Linked DNA regions of Homo sapiens: region 2 is linked to region 1. Evidence: fine-mapped expression QTL. A gene starts in region 1. The other region holds a variant in brackets. All regions are shown on one strand. Distances are from middle to middle.

Evidence for each region. PIP is the estimated chance that this variant, and not a neighbour inherited with it, causes the effect.
Region 2: its variant is the best candidate, but not a certain one, in a credible set for the expression of TAFA4 in transverse colon (GTEx, PIP 0.90).

The regions. Positions count from the first base shown.
Region 1 is chr3:68,927,936-68,936,274 of GRCh38, forward strand. TAFA4 (TAFA chemokine like family member 4) reads right to left here and starts at 4,612. Exons shown (of 6, transcript NM_182522.5): 1 at 4,305-4,612.
Region 2 is chr3:68,435,010-68,443,348 of GRCh38, forward strand. The region is part of intron 3 of TAFA1 (TAFA chemokine like family member 1); the gene reads left to right. Among named protein-coding and RNA genes, the nearest start is that of TAFA1, 430 kb to the left of the region's middle. The variant A/G (reference allele first, on the strand shown) is at 3,524.

The DNA.
Region 1 (8,339 bases):
TTTTCCAAAAAGGATATTTTACTCTTCTGGACTAACAATACCACAATCTCATAAAAGGAAACAAATTACCCATGTCTTTATTATCTTTCTAAATGGTGTCTTGTCATTTTATTAACAAGAACTCCCTAATATTTGATGCTACCATACTTCTGAATTAAAATTATTTATGCTTGTGTTAATGATTTGCTACTCTAAGATCCTGACAGCTTTTGAATTAAAAAGAATGACTAAAAAAGATTCAATGTTGCCTTAGATTCATAACTCTGAAAATCAGTAGTTCATCCATATAAAGAAAGCCATCTAGTAACCAGAATGTTTCCATAACATCAACACGCTACAGCTGGCACATACTGAGTGTTCAACAAATGTGGGGTACCATTATCGTTATTCACAATCATGCCAGAAAATAATGTTGTACCAAATTATTGGCTAGTACTGGCTTTTATAGCAACTAAAAGGCACTAAGTATGAAAGGGCAGCCTATCACTTAATAGATTGATATTCTGAGTTCTTTCACAAATAAACCATAAATCATTATCTTAAACTGCCTGACCATCATTCTAACATCCATGTCTTTCCATGTGTTCAGTTAGGTTCAAATTGCGTCACCCTGCCCAATACTCTTCCATCGCCAGCTCCCCTTTAAACCTTTCGTTTATAACTGTGGATACTGTCGCAGCTACTAGGAAGTAACCCAAGCTAGCTGGTGTATACAGCTGTCCAATCCTTGAGGTGGGCTCAACTAGCATGGTAGTCCAGCAAACTGATGGTGCAAGAAGCCAATGTGGCCCTCCTCCGCAGAGACAGCCAAGGGAAGGGGTCCCACCACATCACAGGAGTCATTCTCTCCCAGTCTTCATTGGAAAGTGCACTGGGCTAGGAATTAGGACTCCGGGATTCTAATCCCAGGTTTTTTAAATAACATAATAGATCCAAGGTAGGACAACACCTCCTACCCCTGATCTTCTAGAAAGGTGAAATCTGAGGTACTTTCTAGATTTAAAATTCTTTGAGCGTTTCCTTAAACCAGATTTTACAATTAAGTTTATTTAAAAAAAAAAAAAGAGCCCTTTTGACTGACTGAAGGGAAATGAATTGAATAGCAACTGTACAACAGGAAGAATTTCTCTTATTTTTCAGCAGATACCAAATAGATGGGAAGTCAAGGTCAATTTTATCTTTTGAGAGGTGGGTTACAGGAGATCACAAATTGAGTGAGGCATTACAAAGTGCAGTGCCATACTACAGCTTAAGTCTCTAAGTCAGGGCTGCCATACCATACTTAAGTCTCGAAGTCAGGGCTGTCTAGGTTCTGACATGGCTTTCAGAAATAACATTTTCAAAACAAATAATTATGAAGTGATTAATGTGGCCAAGATCGCTTCACCAATACCTTTGTGGATATCTTTGTTTCCTATTGCCTGAATCGTGAATCTTGTTTCCTATGGCCTCAATCCCCCACCCTCAATCCTGAATCTTGACAAATTAGGATAAATATACTGTATGGCCTCCCAATCATTTATGATTGATTGGCTTCAGGACTTTAAGTCATCTTGCTAATCCTGAGTGATTTAATAGCCAACACCTGAAGAAATGAACTCATGTACTCAAATTAGCCCATCACCTACGTGGCTATCTCTAGGACAAAAAATAAAAGCAAAAGATTAGTCCATTTACTGTGATGTCTTTACATATTTGTAAAGAAACAGAGCCAGAACACAGGGTGAAAAACTCGCAAAGAGGAAGAAAGCACAAGGGGGAAAATCTACTTATGCAAATTCTAAAGAGATCTATAAAATTGCAATCTGAGAATGTTATTATTAAGCTAAGCCTCTTAGTATAGAAATACCCAAAACTCTCAAACTGGGCAGCTAACGGAGAGTTAGTAAGTGCCAAAAAGACTTCCTTCTTTCCCTTATTCATCACAGGCAATATAGAATCACTTGCTCAATATGATAATATGACTTTTGTCAATGCATGTTCAAATCAGATCAAGGATTGGCTGCTGATGATGTCATATCCAATGGTTAATCCCCAGTGAATGCAGTTTTAATATCACATGCATCAACATGCCATTTACATAGCAAAGTATTATATTAAGTGTAACAATAAATGAGTGGTGCAGAAAAAAAGCAGCTATTAGGAAAAGGCTAGGTACCACTGAAAAGGAGGTGGTAGCGGGGAGCAAAGGAGTTTCTTCTTTTTCTTTTTTAATTACTAAATGGAACTAGGTCATCAAACAATACACATGTCTAAAAAGATCAGAAAATGAATATTGAAATTCAAGTGACCTAGGATATTCTAGTACTAGAAATATAAAAATGGTTGCCTTCAATGAAAAATATCCAATAATCAAGCAGAGATATTTGTAGGGGTTTTTGTATGTGCTAAGGGAACAAGTAATACAATTAAAGTCATTCAAAGATAGAGAAATTGGCAGCCACTGCTTTTCTGGACAGGACAACTTACTTATCTTTAGCAGGGAAAAGTGGCCAAGTCAAATTGTGACTTGAAGCCTTATAATAAATTTTAAAGTGTCAAAGGGCAGTTAAGATGGTACTGAGGGATGAAAGCAAAGTCACGCAAAGCAGAACAATGAGACAGAAGAACTTAGGAAGGGAACCTTGAAATACGGCTTTCTGCTATGAGAATATTGATTAAGAAATGTCCGTGCATATGAAGAAAGCTTCTTCCACAAATGAGCCATGCCAACTCACTCGGTCATTTTGGGAGGACACAAGTCATCATTCGTCATAATGATTCTGAAAACTGCTCTCACACTACCTTATTAAGGCCTGTATTTCCCATCTAGAGGAAGTGTTGGGCTTTCACACTGATATGACTATAAACTTAGCAGAAATTCTTCTCACTATAAAACCCACGCGAGCTATTGAAGAATTCTTCAAGTCATACATTTGTTCTCAGTGACTGAGTGGTAACACTAATTATATTGCAAAATGGCTGTTCCTAAATTATTTTAGCCTTTAAAAAAATCCAAGGCCTTCCTGAACTGGGCTCTGACACAAACTGCCCCCACCTCTTCCCTCCTCAGCGAGTGTTCTAGAGGGGGCCAAACGAAGATGCGTGTGATTAGGAAGCTAGGCCATCAGTGTGCACAAGTTTGGGTGACCGAGTCTGCAGGTGGCAGCTACGAGTTATGGTGGACAAGCTTTATGCCAAGGATATTAGAGACAGAAACAGACCAAAGCTTCGAAGGCGCCCATCCCCACACACGGGGATCGCCTGTCACATCACATCAACCTTGCTTGTCTCAGAGGGAAGACCATTGAAAAGTTAAAAGGGAAAAGAGTTCAGGGATAAAGACGTTAAACCAAAGGGGGGTCCCTGAATCTCGGTGACGGGGGATGGGCACCAGGCTAGGTCTCGGCGAGTCCGTGAACCCGTGCATGTACATACTGCTTAGGAGCTGATTCACAGCTTTACTAAGGCTCCGTGGAGCCCCTAAACGTTAAATGATGCTGATTCGAGAAGAAAACGCACCAGCGGCACTGTGTCTGGCTTGGGCAGCCTCACCAGGTGCAGGAGATCAAGCTTTCCAGTTCCAATCCTCTCCCGAGCTCCTTGCGTAGGGTCAAGGATGCCCTCTCTTCTAGGAGCGGATTAACAGGGCAAAGTGGGAAAAAGAGCGAAAGAAATGTAGAGATGCCACCTTGGTGGGCAAATCTGAGATGCCTCCCGCGGAAAGAGACGCAACTTCCAGACCCGCTCCAGTTCTCCACTTGGGCGGGAAGCTTTGCGCTCCCAGCTGGAAGACGCCTCCCGAGCGCTCGCTGCGCCCTTCAAGCAAGATCCTAGCAACCAGAGCTTCAGGGTGGGGGTGGGGGCGGGGGGACGCTGACCGGCTCCCACCTGCTTGCTCCTAGAAAGATCCTAGCTCAGATTAAAGGGATGAAGCGCTAAGGTCGACTTGTCCAGAAAAGAGCTCACGGTGAGTTCACCACCCCCTATACCAATTCATCGAGTGGCCTCCTCCGCATCAGCAGAGCACCCCCGGGGATTCTGTCAGACATGAACCCCGAAACTGGAAGCGGCCGCTGCCTCTCTCCAGCCACACATCCTTACTTCGGAGTGCCCCTTCCAACTTCGGGTTGCACGCCGACCTCAGCACAGGCACTCTCCCCGGCGCCCCAGAGAGCCGGGATGAGGGGAGCTGCACCGAGCTGAGTTAACTCGGTACCAGCCGAGAGGCAGCGGCTGCCCACGAGACAGCACCTAAATACAGGGTCCAAATCCACCCCCACCCCATCCTCTCGCCCCTCCTTATCCCTTCCAACCCTTCTTACTCGACTAGAGCCGGCATCCAAGTCGGACCGGCGCGTCCGGAACTAGGTACTGATCGCCGCACCGGAGCCCGAGGACGCTCACCGTGCCGCCTCCCCGCGGGAGCCCCGGGAGCGGCCCATCACCTCTGCAGCCTCGCCAGGAGAAGAAAAGTTCCCACGTCTCTACCAGGAGAAGCCCGAAGCTCCTGCGGGAGAAGCCTGAAGCTGCTGCTGGAGAAGCGGCAGCTGAGGCAGGACTCCCGATGTTTGCCCGCAGCCGCGCGCGCAGTCGGTGCGCCCCGTCCAGGGCGGCGCGCAGCTAGCAGTGCGGAGCCGAGCCCAGCTAGCGCGCTGACCAGGAGGGGCCGGGCCCGCCGCGGAACGCGCTGATTGGCCGGGCCGCCCGGCTGCTCCTGTCCCTGCCTGGCCCCGCGGTCCACGTGGGCCGGCCTTCTCCCCGCCCCGCACCCCTGCTCAGGCGGCGCGCCCCCACTGCCGGCCTCCAGGCGCCTCTCCCGAGCGCCTCGCTGTGGCCACCACTCCGCAGGTGCTGAGCAAAAGGTATTCTTCCTGAATACCTGAGAGTCGCGTTGAGCTCCACATAAGGAAGACGGATTTAGGGTTCGGCTCTCACTCGAAACCATTCTCCACGCAGGACCCAAAGCGGTTTGCAAGCAGGATTTCTTAGCCACCCCGTGCAGTAGCACATTCATGAACTAATCTGGCTTCGCGTGTAATGTGCTTGTATGAGAGAGGAGAAAACTCGGCCCACGTATGAATACCTAAATACTTTTCTTTTTTAATGTATAAAATACAGCTGGGGCCGGGCTCGGTTGCTCACGCCTGTAATCCCAGCACTTTGGGAGGCTGAGGCGGGTGGATCATGAGGTCGGGAGATCGAGACCATCCTGACTAACACGGTGAAACCCCGTCTCTACTAAAAATACAAAAATTAGCCAGGCGTGGTGGCGGGTGCTTGTAGTCCCAGCTACTCGGGAGGCTGAGGCAGGAGAATGGCGTGAACCGGGGAGGCGGAGCTTGCAGTGAGCCGAGATCGCACCACTGCACTCCAGCCTGGTCGACAGAGCGAGACTTCGTCTCAAAAAAAAAAAAAAAAAAAAAAAAAATTCAGCTAAGACTTCTTTGACTCCCTCCTCCCACCCCATTCCTAGTCATGCCCTCCACTCTTCCGCAAGTGAAGTAACTGATAATCAGTGTCACTTAATGGTATTCATTTTACTGGGATTAGTTCATCTGATCTCTATTTTATAGATGAGATAACTGAAGCACAGAGAAGTTAAATCGTTTACTGAAGATTACACAGGTAACTAGTAAATCCATGCTCTTTAGTATGCAAAGCATGGCGTCGTAGAGCGGTCCCTTGAGAACACTTTAGAACTGCAGACTTTCAGGCCCCACCCCAGAAGTAGAATCTTCATTTTAACAAGATGCCCAAGTGGCTGGTGCATGCATAAAGTTAGAAAACGTTGCTCTGTACCACTATGCTGCTCACTGTCATTGGCTTGGCTTATCATCTTCTGGTCCTTTTACTCTGCATTGACATACAATTATGTGCCATCCTGCCCCTGCTGCACTCCAAAGTATGTTCACCCTTCTCTGACTCTACCCCTTGAACTAACGTATGGCAGGCCTTCTGCTTCTGTTCCCCGTACCACACATACCATAGCACATTTTACTTGTTAAACAGTTTCAATCTCTTACTCTCTTATTATTAAAATGGGGGTTCTACATTCAAAGGCAATTTGTTATCAAGATGTCACCAGTTTAAGAGAGAATTCAAGCTTTGGAGATAGGCGCTTGATCTTTGAGATTTCCTTTAAAGACTAGCATTGAAGTTCTGTGACGGCCAAAGGGGAGATCCAAGCAAAACCTGAAATAGCATGCCAGGAGATTCCAGAGCTCTTTCTCAACAGCATTCATTCATTCATTCACTCACTCAGCAAAACTGAGGGCCTACTCTGTGTCAGGCGCTGTAACAAGTGCTGGTACATAGAGAAGGAAACACAACAGTGAAAAGTTCCTGAGTTCATGGAACTTATCTTCTAGTAGGGAGAGATGGGCAATTAACATGACAAATAAGTGAATTACAGAGTTTGATAGAAAGTGGTCAGTGTTATAGAGAGAAAGAAAGTAACAGAAAAGAAGGTGAGTACTGGGGAGATGGTGGTTTTAAGAACAGTAGTTAGGCTAGTTCCCACTGAGAAGGTAATATCTGAACCAAGACTTGGAAGAAGTGAGGGAGCAAGTCATTTAGAAGAACAAGTCCACATTCATTTGTTCACCAGATATTCGTTGCTTCCACACTGTGTGACAAACATGGTTCTGGCAAAGATCTGCGTGTTTACTTAAGCCCTGTTTTCCATGTCTCCAATTTTCCTGCACTGGGGGTTTCTTGTCCTGGTGAGGAAAACCAAAACGTAAGCAACTGTGTTTGGCTCAACCTAATACCATGTTCTTCCATCCTGGATGTTCAGTACTGTTAGAGGTTCAAATTTGTCTCCCTAAAATTTATATGTTTAAGTCATAACCCCCAGTACCACAGAATGTGACATTATTTGGAGATAGGGTCTTTATGGAATTAAATTAAATGAGGTCTTTAGAATGAGCCCGAATCCAGTATGACTGTGTCCTTATAAAATGGGGAAATTTGGAGACAGACATGCACACAGGAAGAACACCATGTAGAAATCAGGACAGAGATGGAGTGATACTTCCACAAGCTAAGGAATGCCAAAGATTGCCAGCAAACCACCTAGGGAGAAGAGAGGCGTGTAACAAATTCTTTGCAGCCCTCAGAAGGAACCAACCCTGCTAACACCTTAACCTTGGACTTCTAGCCTCCAGAACTGTAAGACAAGAAATTTCTGTTGTTTAAGCCACCTAGTTTGTGGTATTTGTATGGCAGCCCTAGCAAATTCATACAAGCATAAAAGTGTGTTTGTTTCTAAAGTAAGATAGTACAGTTAAGGGACTCATCTGTAAGTTTCCAATGACCTGATGTCTCTTGTGCAGTAGCAAGAAGCCAGAATGATCTGATAAATTGAGATTTACTAACCAAATCACCACAAAAAAGGCAAGCTATATTAAAAAAAAAAAAAAGAAATAGCCACTAAGCCCCAATTATCCAATTGTTTCCTCATTCAGCTATTTATCAAGCGCCTGCTGTGAGCCAGGCTCTAGGATATGGTGACAAACAAGGCACATGTGAGTTGCGTGTATTCTTGTGGGGAAGGTTGGACAGTAAATAATTCAACAAATATATGAATAAGGTCATTTCAGAGCACAATAAGTGCTAAAAGAAAATAAAAGAAGGCTAGAGCATTAGAAGGATATGAGGATGGGTTTAATTTAGATTGGCTGCCTAGAGAAGGTCCCTATGAGGTAGTGACGTTTGAGTCAAGACCTAACTGACAAAAAGCCATCCAAGCGAATATCTGGGCAAAAATTGTTCCAGGCAGAGACAGTAGTTCCTCTTACAAGAAAACATTCCTGTCATTCATTCGGTAACATTCTTTCTCTCTCTCTTTGCGACCCATTTTGCATCCTTTGAGGTTGTGTAAAATCAATCAACATCTGTTTCCTAAAAATGGGGTCAAATGATTTATTTTCTTATGTAAGAACCTGTGAAGGTCACGCCAACGGTATTTTGCACACACCACACATTCACAAAACACCCCTGGATGTGCCTCTGTATTTGTAGGTAGTGACACCACGTGACTTGGACATTGTGTTTACTTTCCTCATTTGTATAACATCCAGAACACTACTGGCATGTCCTGGTGCTTAATCAATACGTGCTGATGACTGACTATGCCTGAAAGGAACGTTCTGACTCTCCTGGGCCTGTTTAAAAAATCCTCTTGTTTCTAGCGAAGCTTCAGTTTTAAAAATTTGCAACACAATTTTGCACTTAGTAATTTTTCTGAGGAGACTAATAAGAATGATAGCTGACTTAATTGGAGGCTTGTGTGTGGCTCACTATACTATGTACTTCACACGGATTATCATCTTTATAATCCATGTAAATATAAGTAA
Region 2 (8,339 bases), 490 kb before region 1:
GATGACAGGCAAATTGGTGATTGCAAAGTTGTGTGATGTGTGCTCTGATGGAGATGAGCCCAGAGTGCTCTGAGAGCAGAGGTTAGGGTGTTAAATGATGGAAGCAGGAGGGTGTTCTAGATGGCTTCTCATCAGAACTAACATCCAGTCTGGGACTCTAAGTGACTAGGTAAGAGGATGGGATCGAATGTCCATGGCAGAAACAATGGCATGTGCAAAAGCCCAGCATCAACAAGAAGGATCCTAATGAATCCAAGGAGCTGCAAGAAGTTCAATGTGCCTGGGTAGAGAAGGGTGTGGGATGGGTCTGGAAAGAAGTGAGACTGGAAATCTCATTAGGAATGAGCTCATGCAGCAGCCTGGTAGCCATGGTGGATATTGAAACTGCCCAAGAGCAGTGGAATCAGGCACTAAAGGGTTTTGTGTCAATGAATGTTATGGTTAGATCTGTGTTTGGATGTCTCACTACATAGCACAGGAATTAAATTGTTTCTAGTATAATTGCTATTCATTGTACTTAGAGCCCAAATTTCTAACCAATACAGAGAATAAACCCAAGAAATGTCAGAAAGGAAACAGGTCCATTCTGATTTTTAGGTCAATGCTCTGATATTTAGGGTAACAAAGTTACATCACAGTTTTGCTGGCAAAAACTAGAGTGGAGATTATGAAAGAAGTAGTATCTCCAATAGGAAATCTTGGCATCTTAGCCACATGACTGTGAATGCATGCTTTTGGTTTTGCATCAAGGATCACTATGGCAAGGGGAGTGTTCATTCTACTTATGCAGAAAAAGTAAGAAGGACTGAGAATAACATATCTTAACCATGTAAAAACAGGCCCTTCATATAAGGGAAATTAAAGAGTACGATTAACGTCCTGCCAGACTACATGTTAGAATCACCTAGGGAGGTTTTTTAAAATATCAGTGGCTTGGCCACACCCCTAGATATTTTTACTTGATTGAGCTGAAGCAGGGTCTAGACATTTGCATTTTTTAAAAGCTCCATGAGGGATACTAAGGGATAACCAGAGTTGAGAACCAAAGCTGTAGTGGTTAAGAGCACGGGCTGGGGAATAAGGTAGAATGGATTGAAATTCTGGCTCTTGCTGAAAACAAAATTATTTCTGTTCTTTTAATTTCTAATTTATAAATCTTCCATGTGGCATTAAAGGTGACTTATATAGATATTTCCATCACAACCAGATAAAGTGTAATGTAGACATGAAAGGAATTCAACTCTTATGCCCTGCCCTTAGTTTCTTCATTTGTAAGGTGGGCATAACAGTATCTACCTTATATGATCTACGCAAGCTTTGAACATGTTAATAAGTAAAAAGATTTATAAGTACCTGGCATATAAGTGTTTGATAGATGTAAGCTATTGTTCTTAACTCAGGTGAAGTTCATAGGAGAAACAGGACAGAGAGGAGAGAAATCACAAAGCATGTTTCAAAGACACCAATTAGTTTGGCTGAGGCCTCAGGGAGTAATAGGTAAAAAACTTACAAAGTCAAGTTGGGGCCAAATTTCTTTCTTGAGCTCCAGGCTAATGTTGAAATTTCAGCAAGTGTTCATTAATTGGTCATCTAATAATGTAGTCCCCAAGCAGGTAAGACCAGCAGGTGTATATTGTACAAAATAGAATAAATTTAAGGATTGCTCAGAGTTCATTCCAAAACTTGGGCTCTGATTTGAATTGAACCCAAATGTGGAACCAACAGATGTCTCTGTGGAAAGTTGTGATTAAGTCAACATAGAGCTTCACAAATGAACAGCGAGTCACTGGTTATGAATAACCCCTGGCACTCAGGAAGGCAGATGCCTTTCCTGGTGACACCTTGGCTCTTGTTAACAGATACAGCCAGCTCCACTTCTGTTGTCCAGATTTTGCCCACTTTATTAGAAAACTCTAAATAGTGCTGAAAACTGTTTCTGTTCTTTCTCTTTTTATTTATAAATATTTTATAAAAGAGCAAATGTAACTTACATGGACAAATCCCACACAGCAATGTAAACATAAAATGTAATATAGACATGAAAGAAGTAAGAAGACAGGGGAAATGAGGATGAGATGTTTAAAAGAAAGCTGGGAGGGAACTGAGAGAAGGTCACGCAATCCTATAAATATGCCACCAATGCATCGCAAGTTTGGCTGTAAGCCTTCTAACAGGCAATGCAAAGAGGGAAACAAGATTGGTTACAAGATTTAGAATGTTCCCAGCTTAATCCAGGCTGTTGCTTAATAGCACAATAACATTGTGCTATTCTTGGCACAATGTTAAAGAGAAATATGTCCAGGTCTACATAAAGAGAATATAGTTTAAAATAGTTGTATTAGTCCATTTTCTTATGGACTTTCTTATGGTCCATTCTCTTATGTTGCTTGTAAGAGAATATCTGCATCTGGTTAATTTATAAATAAAATTATTTCTTACAGTTCTGAAGGCTGACAAGCCTAAGGCCAAAGGGCTGCATCTCGTAAGGGCCTTCTTCCTAGGAGTGACTCTGTAAAGTCCCAAGGCAACACAGGGCATAACATGGCAAGGGGACGGAATATGCCACCTCAATTCTCTCTTTCTCTTCTTATAAAGCCACCAGTTTCACTCTCATGAAAACCCATGAATCCATTAAGGAATTCATTCATTAAGAAATGAATTCATTGATAAGGGCAGAGTCCTTATGACCCAATTACCCCTTAAAGGCCCCACCTGTCAATATTGCCACACTGGGGATTAAGTTTTAACATAAGTTTTGGAGGGTACAAATTTTCAAACCATAGCATTCTACCCCTGGCCTCCCGAAACTCATATCCTTCTCGCATACAAATATATTCATTTCAACCCCATAGCCCTAAAGTCTTAACTTGTTCTAGCACCAACTCAAAAGTCCGTCTACTTTTTTGTGAAATCAAAACAAGGCATCTACTTCCAAGACACACGGTGGGAGAGACATAGGGTACACATTCCCATTCCAAAATGGAGAAATAGGCTAGAAGAAAGGAGTAACAGGCCCCAAGCAAGTCCAAAACCCAAGAGCAGACATTAAGTAATAAGACTCCAGATTAGCCATGTGCAGTGGCTCATGCCTGTAATACAAGCACTTTGGGAGATGGAGCTGGGCAGATTGCTTGAGCCCAGGAGTTTGAGACCAGCCTGAGCAACAGACAAAACCCTGTCTCTACTAAAAATACAAAAATTCATTGGGTCTGGTGGCACATGTCAATAGCCCCAACTACTTGGGAGGCTAAGGTGGAAGTTTTGCTTGAGCCCAGAGTGGGAGGTTACAGTGAGCCAGGATTGTATCACTGCACTCCAGCCCAGGAAACAGAGTGAGACCTTGTCTCAGAAAAAAAGACTCCAGAATAACAGAATAGTCTCCTCTGGCTCCATATCTGCATTTTCTGCACACCAGTTGTGGTTGGGCCCCCAAGGCCTTGGGCAGTCCAACCCCTGTGGCTTGGCTGGACTCAGTCTACCCAGCTCACTTAGGGTTGCATTGCACACTGTTCTCTCTACAGTT[A/G]TGGGGTCTTGGTGTTAGTCCCACTCCCATGGCTCCATTAGGCATTGTTCTGGTGGGGACTCCCTGGAGCACCTTCAACGCACCTTTCCACTCAGCATTGCTCTAGAGGAAGTTCTCTGTGGTGGCTCCACCCCAGTGATAAGTCTCTGCCTTGCCCTCAGGTTGTCTGACACATTCTTTGAAATCTAGGTGAAGGCTGCCATGCTTCCATAGCTCTTGTTTTCTGCAAGCCTGCAGAATTAGCACCACTTTGGTGACACCAAAGTTTATGGCTTGCATCTTCTGGGGAGTGGGTTTCATCTCAATTAAGGCCACTTGAGCCACAGCTAGGATGGCCACACATTGCTGTACCAGGGTTCTGGGAGCAAAGTGTCGTGGTATCCCTGAGCAGCAAGCCCATGTAGAGAGTGTCAGGCCTGTCCCCTGAAATCATTCTGCCTTCCTAGCCCCCTGGGCCTGTGATGGGAGCAGCAGCCTCAAAGATCTATAAAATGCCTTTGGGATCTTTCTTCCATTGTCTTATGGAATAATACTTGGCTCCCTTCTATCCATGCTAATCTCTTTAGGAAACAGTCACTGGGCTACACCATTGGTTTTTCTCTCCTGAACATGCTTTTTCACTTTTTACATGGCCAGGCTGAGAGTTTTCCAAATCTTTCTACTCTTCTTTCTTTTTATTTATAAATTCTGTCTTCAAATTATTCTTTTCCTCCCAAATCTCAGTGTAAGTGGACAAATGTGACCATGAAACGTCTATATTTTGCATAGAAATTTCTTCTGCCACATACCCTAGTATATCACTCTTGAGTTTGGCCTTCTACAAAGCTGTATTAGTCAGGGTTCTCTAGAGGGACAGAAGTAATAGAATATATATACATACATATATATATATATATATATATATATATATATGAGTTTATCAAGGAGTATTAACTCACACAATCACAAGGCCTTACAACAGGCCATCTGCAGGCCGAGGAGCTAGGAAGCCAGTCTGAGTCCCAAAGCTGAAGAACTTGGAATCCGATGTTTGAGGGCAGGAAGTATACAGCATGGGAGAAAGATGTAGGCTGGAAGGCTAAACCAGTCTAGTCTTCTCAGGTTCTTCTGCCTGCTTTTATTCTGGCTGTGCTGGTAGCTGATTACATTGTGAATGCCCAGATTAAGGGTGGGTCTGCCTTTCCCAGCCCACTGACTCAAATGTTAATCTCCTTTGGCAACACCCTGATAGACACACCCGGGATCGATACTTTGCATCCTTCAATCCAATCAAGATGACACTCAGTATTAACAATCACAAGTCCATTCCTTGTCAACTTGAATGCATATACAACTCCTGAGATCATACATAATCTTCAAATAAAGACAATAATAAGATCATAATTATGCCTAACATAATACAACTTCCTTTGAACAACTGGAACTGCACCAATCCCCAACTCAAATGCTATTACATAAAGTTAACAACACTTAAATGCCAATATGAAATTGATATGGTTTAGCTGTGTCCCCCCCCTCCAAATCTCATCTCAAATTGTAACCCCCACAATTCCCACATGGCATGGGAGAAACTGGGTGGGAGGTGATTGAGTTATGGGGGCAGATCTTTCCTGCACTGTTCTCATGATAGTGAATGAGTCTCAAAAGAGCTGATGGCTTTAAAAACAGAAGTTTCCCTGCACGAACTCTCTTCTATTGTCTGTCACCATGTGAAACATGCCTTTCACCTCCCACCATGATTGTGAGGCCTCCCCAGCCACACAGAACTGTAAGTCCATTAAACCTCTTTCTTTTGTAAATTGCCCAATCTTGGATATGTCTTTATCAGCAGCATGAAAATGGACTAATACAGAAGTCAATAAATTTTAGGGCACATGATAAAGGAAAAAGGAAACAAAATGAAGATTTTTTATAGCACAAGTGTATACATGCACAAACATGTTTTTAACAAAAGGAGGAGGAAATATGACAATTACAGCCCTCGTTTCTGCAACTGGTCACGTGGTCATAGCTGGTATTAATGACTAGTTTCTTCTACTACCCATTCTGTATTCCCTTTGCCTTCAGCAAATGCCTCAAGAGGTCATGAATTTTTCCTGGTAGAGTGACCCAAACCTTCATTCCTGAAGGGTCTGGGCCATTTGTAGTCCTGCCTGGATTGGACTGTTGTAGTTTCCCATTGACCTTAGTCACAGGGAATGGTAATACTAAGATCTCTTGTATTCCACACATACTCTTCCTTACCTCCATTGTGGAATAGTAGACTGATTTTATCTTGATAATACAGGTCAGTCACCGCAGCCAACACTGTAACCCCCTTCTTAGCCTGTTGACTTAAAGGTAGAGGAGCCCAAAGTGTCCAGGTGGCAATCTTAACTTCCAATTTAATGGAATCATTGTTGTGTCTCCTGGTGGCAGTGTTCCTCCCTCTGGAACTATATCTGACTAAAATTAAGGGATCTTCTACCTCAGTAAAATTTCTAGGGGTCCAGTGGTGTTGGGTCTGTCGAGATATTCTTTCTAAGGTAAAGAATAAGTTGCTGCATTTGGCCACCCCTACAACCAAGAAAGAAACACAAGGCCTAGTGGGCCTATTTGGATTTTGGAGGAAACATATTCCTCATTTGGGTGTGTTACTCTAGTCCATTTATCAAGTGACCTGAAAGACTGCCGGTTTTGAGTGAGGTCCAGAACAAGAGAAGGCTCTGCAACAGGTGCAGGCTGCTTTGTAAGCTGCTCTGCCACTTGGGCTATATGACCCAGCAGATCCAATGGTGCTTGAGGTGTCAGTGGCAGATAGTGACACTGTGTGGAGCCTCTGGCAAGCCCCCATAGGTGAATCACAACAAAGGCCTCTAAGATTTTAGAGCAAAGCCCTGCCATCTTCTGCAGATTACTACTCTCCTTTTGAGAGATAGCTCTTGGCCTGTTACTGGGCTTTGGTGGAAACTGAACGTTTAACTATGGGTCATCAACTCATCATGCAACCTGAACTGCCTATCATGAACTGGGTACTTTCTGACCCATCTAGCCATAAAGTGGGTTGTGCACACCAGCATTCCATCATCAAATAGAATTGATATATACATGATCGGGCTCGAGAAGGTCCTGAAGGCACAAGTAAGTTACATCAGGAAGTGTCTCAAATGCCCATGGTCTCCACCTCTGCCACCCTGCCTTTTCTCCCTCAGCCTGAACTGAGGGCTTCATGAGGAGTTCCCTATGATCAGTTGACAGAGGAAGAGAAGACTAGGGCCTGGTTCACAGATGGTTCTGCATGATATGCAGGCACCATCTGAAAGTGGACAGCTGCAGCACTACAGCCCCTTTCTAGGACATCCCTGAAGGACAGCAGTGAAGGGATATCTTCCCAGTGGGCAGAACTTTGAGCAGTGTACCTGGCTGTGCACTTTACATGGAAGGATAAATGGCCAGATGTGTGATTATATACTGATACATGGGCTGTAGCCTAGTCTTCCTGTTTTCTTAGCCCTCACCAGAATCCTGCTGCTCCAAATTCTTCCAGCCTCTGCCCATTATGCAGTTGCAAAGTTGCTTCCACATTTTCAGGTATTCATGATCACCACCACCCCACTCCTTATATCAATTTTTTTAATTAGTCCATTTTCTGTTGCTTATAACAGAATCCCTGAAACTGAGTAATTATTAAAGAAAAGGAATTTATTTCTTACAGTTGTGGACACCCAGGAGCTAGCTGCATCTGGAGAGGGCTTTCTTGCTGGTGGGGACTTGGACCAGAATCCCAACGTGGCAAAGGGTATTACATGTCAAAGGGGCTAAGCTAATGTGCTTGCTCAGGTCTCTCTTCCTCTTCTTCTAAGGCCATCCATTCCCCTCCAAAGACAACTCATTTATCCATGAGGGGATTAATTCATTCATAAGGGCAGAGCACTCATGTGACTCAGTCATCTCTTGAAGGCCCCACCTCTCAATACTGTTAAGTTTTAGCATGAGTTTTGGAGGAGACATTCAAACTATAGCAATACTAATATTCTTATCACATTTCAATAACCCAGTAGAGTTTATGACACGTAGTGGCTACTAGTGAGTGAATGAAGGAAAAAAGAAAGAGGGAGGCAGGGAGGAAAGGGAGGAGAAGAAATCTATATTCTAAATCTACAAAATGTATGGGATGCTTTGCTAACAATAAGGTAGTATACACAAAATGGCTCAGTGTAGCCATCAGCACTCAACTAGTCTGACTGAAACCAGAAATGGATTTTAGTGCCTGCAGAAAAGAATAGATTAAATATCTCACAGGCAATCTTTACTATAAACTGTTTCTCTCCATCAGATAGCTGATAAGGATTGAGGGTCAGTAATTTCATGTTATAGTCCTGTATACCTCCACATTCTTGATTCAGTGGCTTGATGCAATAGATATTTACTTCTCATTCACATAAAAATTGATTCAGGTGTAGGGGTAGCTCTCCTCCATGTGGTGATACAGGAAGCCTCTGAATCACCTCTGTATCGTGGCTCTGTTATATATGACTACAAAAGGCATCCACATCAAGTGGCAGAGAGTAGAGAAGGCCCATCTACTTCGTAATTACCTTGGCTCGAAAATGACTCAGATTACATACACTCAAATTCCATTGGTAAGGGGTTCCACCTTGTTGCAAGGGGCCTGAAAATTGCAGTCCTGGGTAAGACAGCCTCTTCCTGGTAACATCCTTCCTCTAAGAAGCACAAGCACAGAACCCTGGAAGGCAGCTACCTTTTTCCCTCACTATTCTTATATCTGGCCACCAAATATCTGTGCCTACTTTTCCCAAAAAGAGACAGCCCTAAG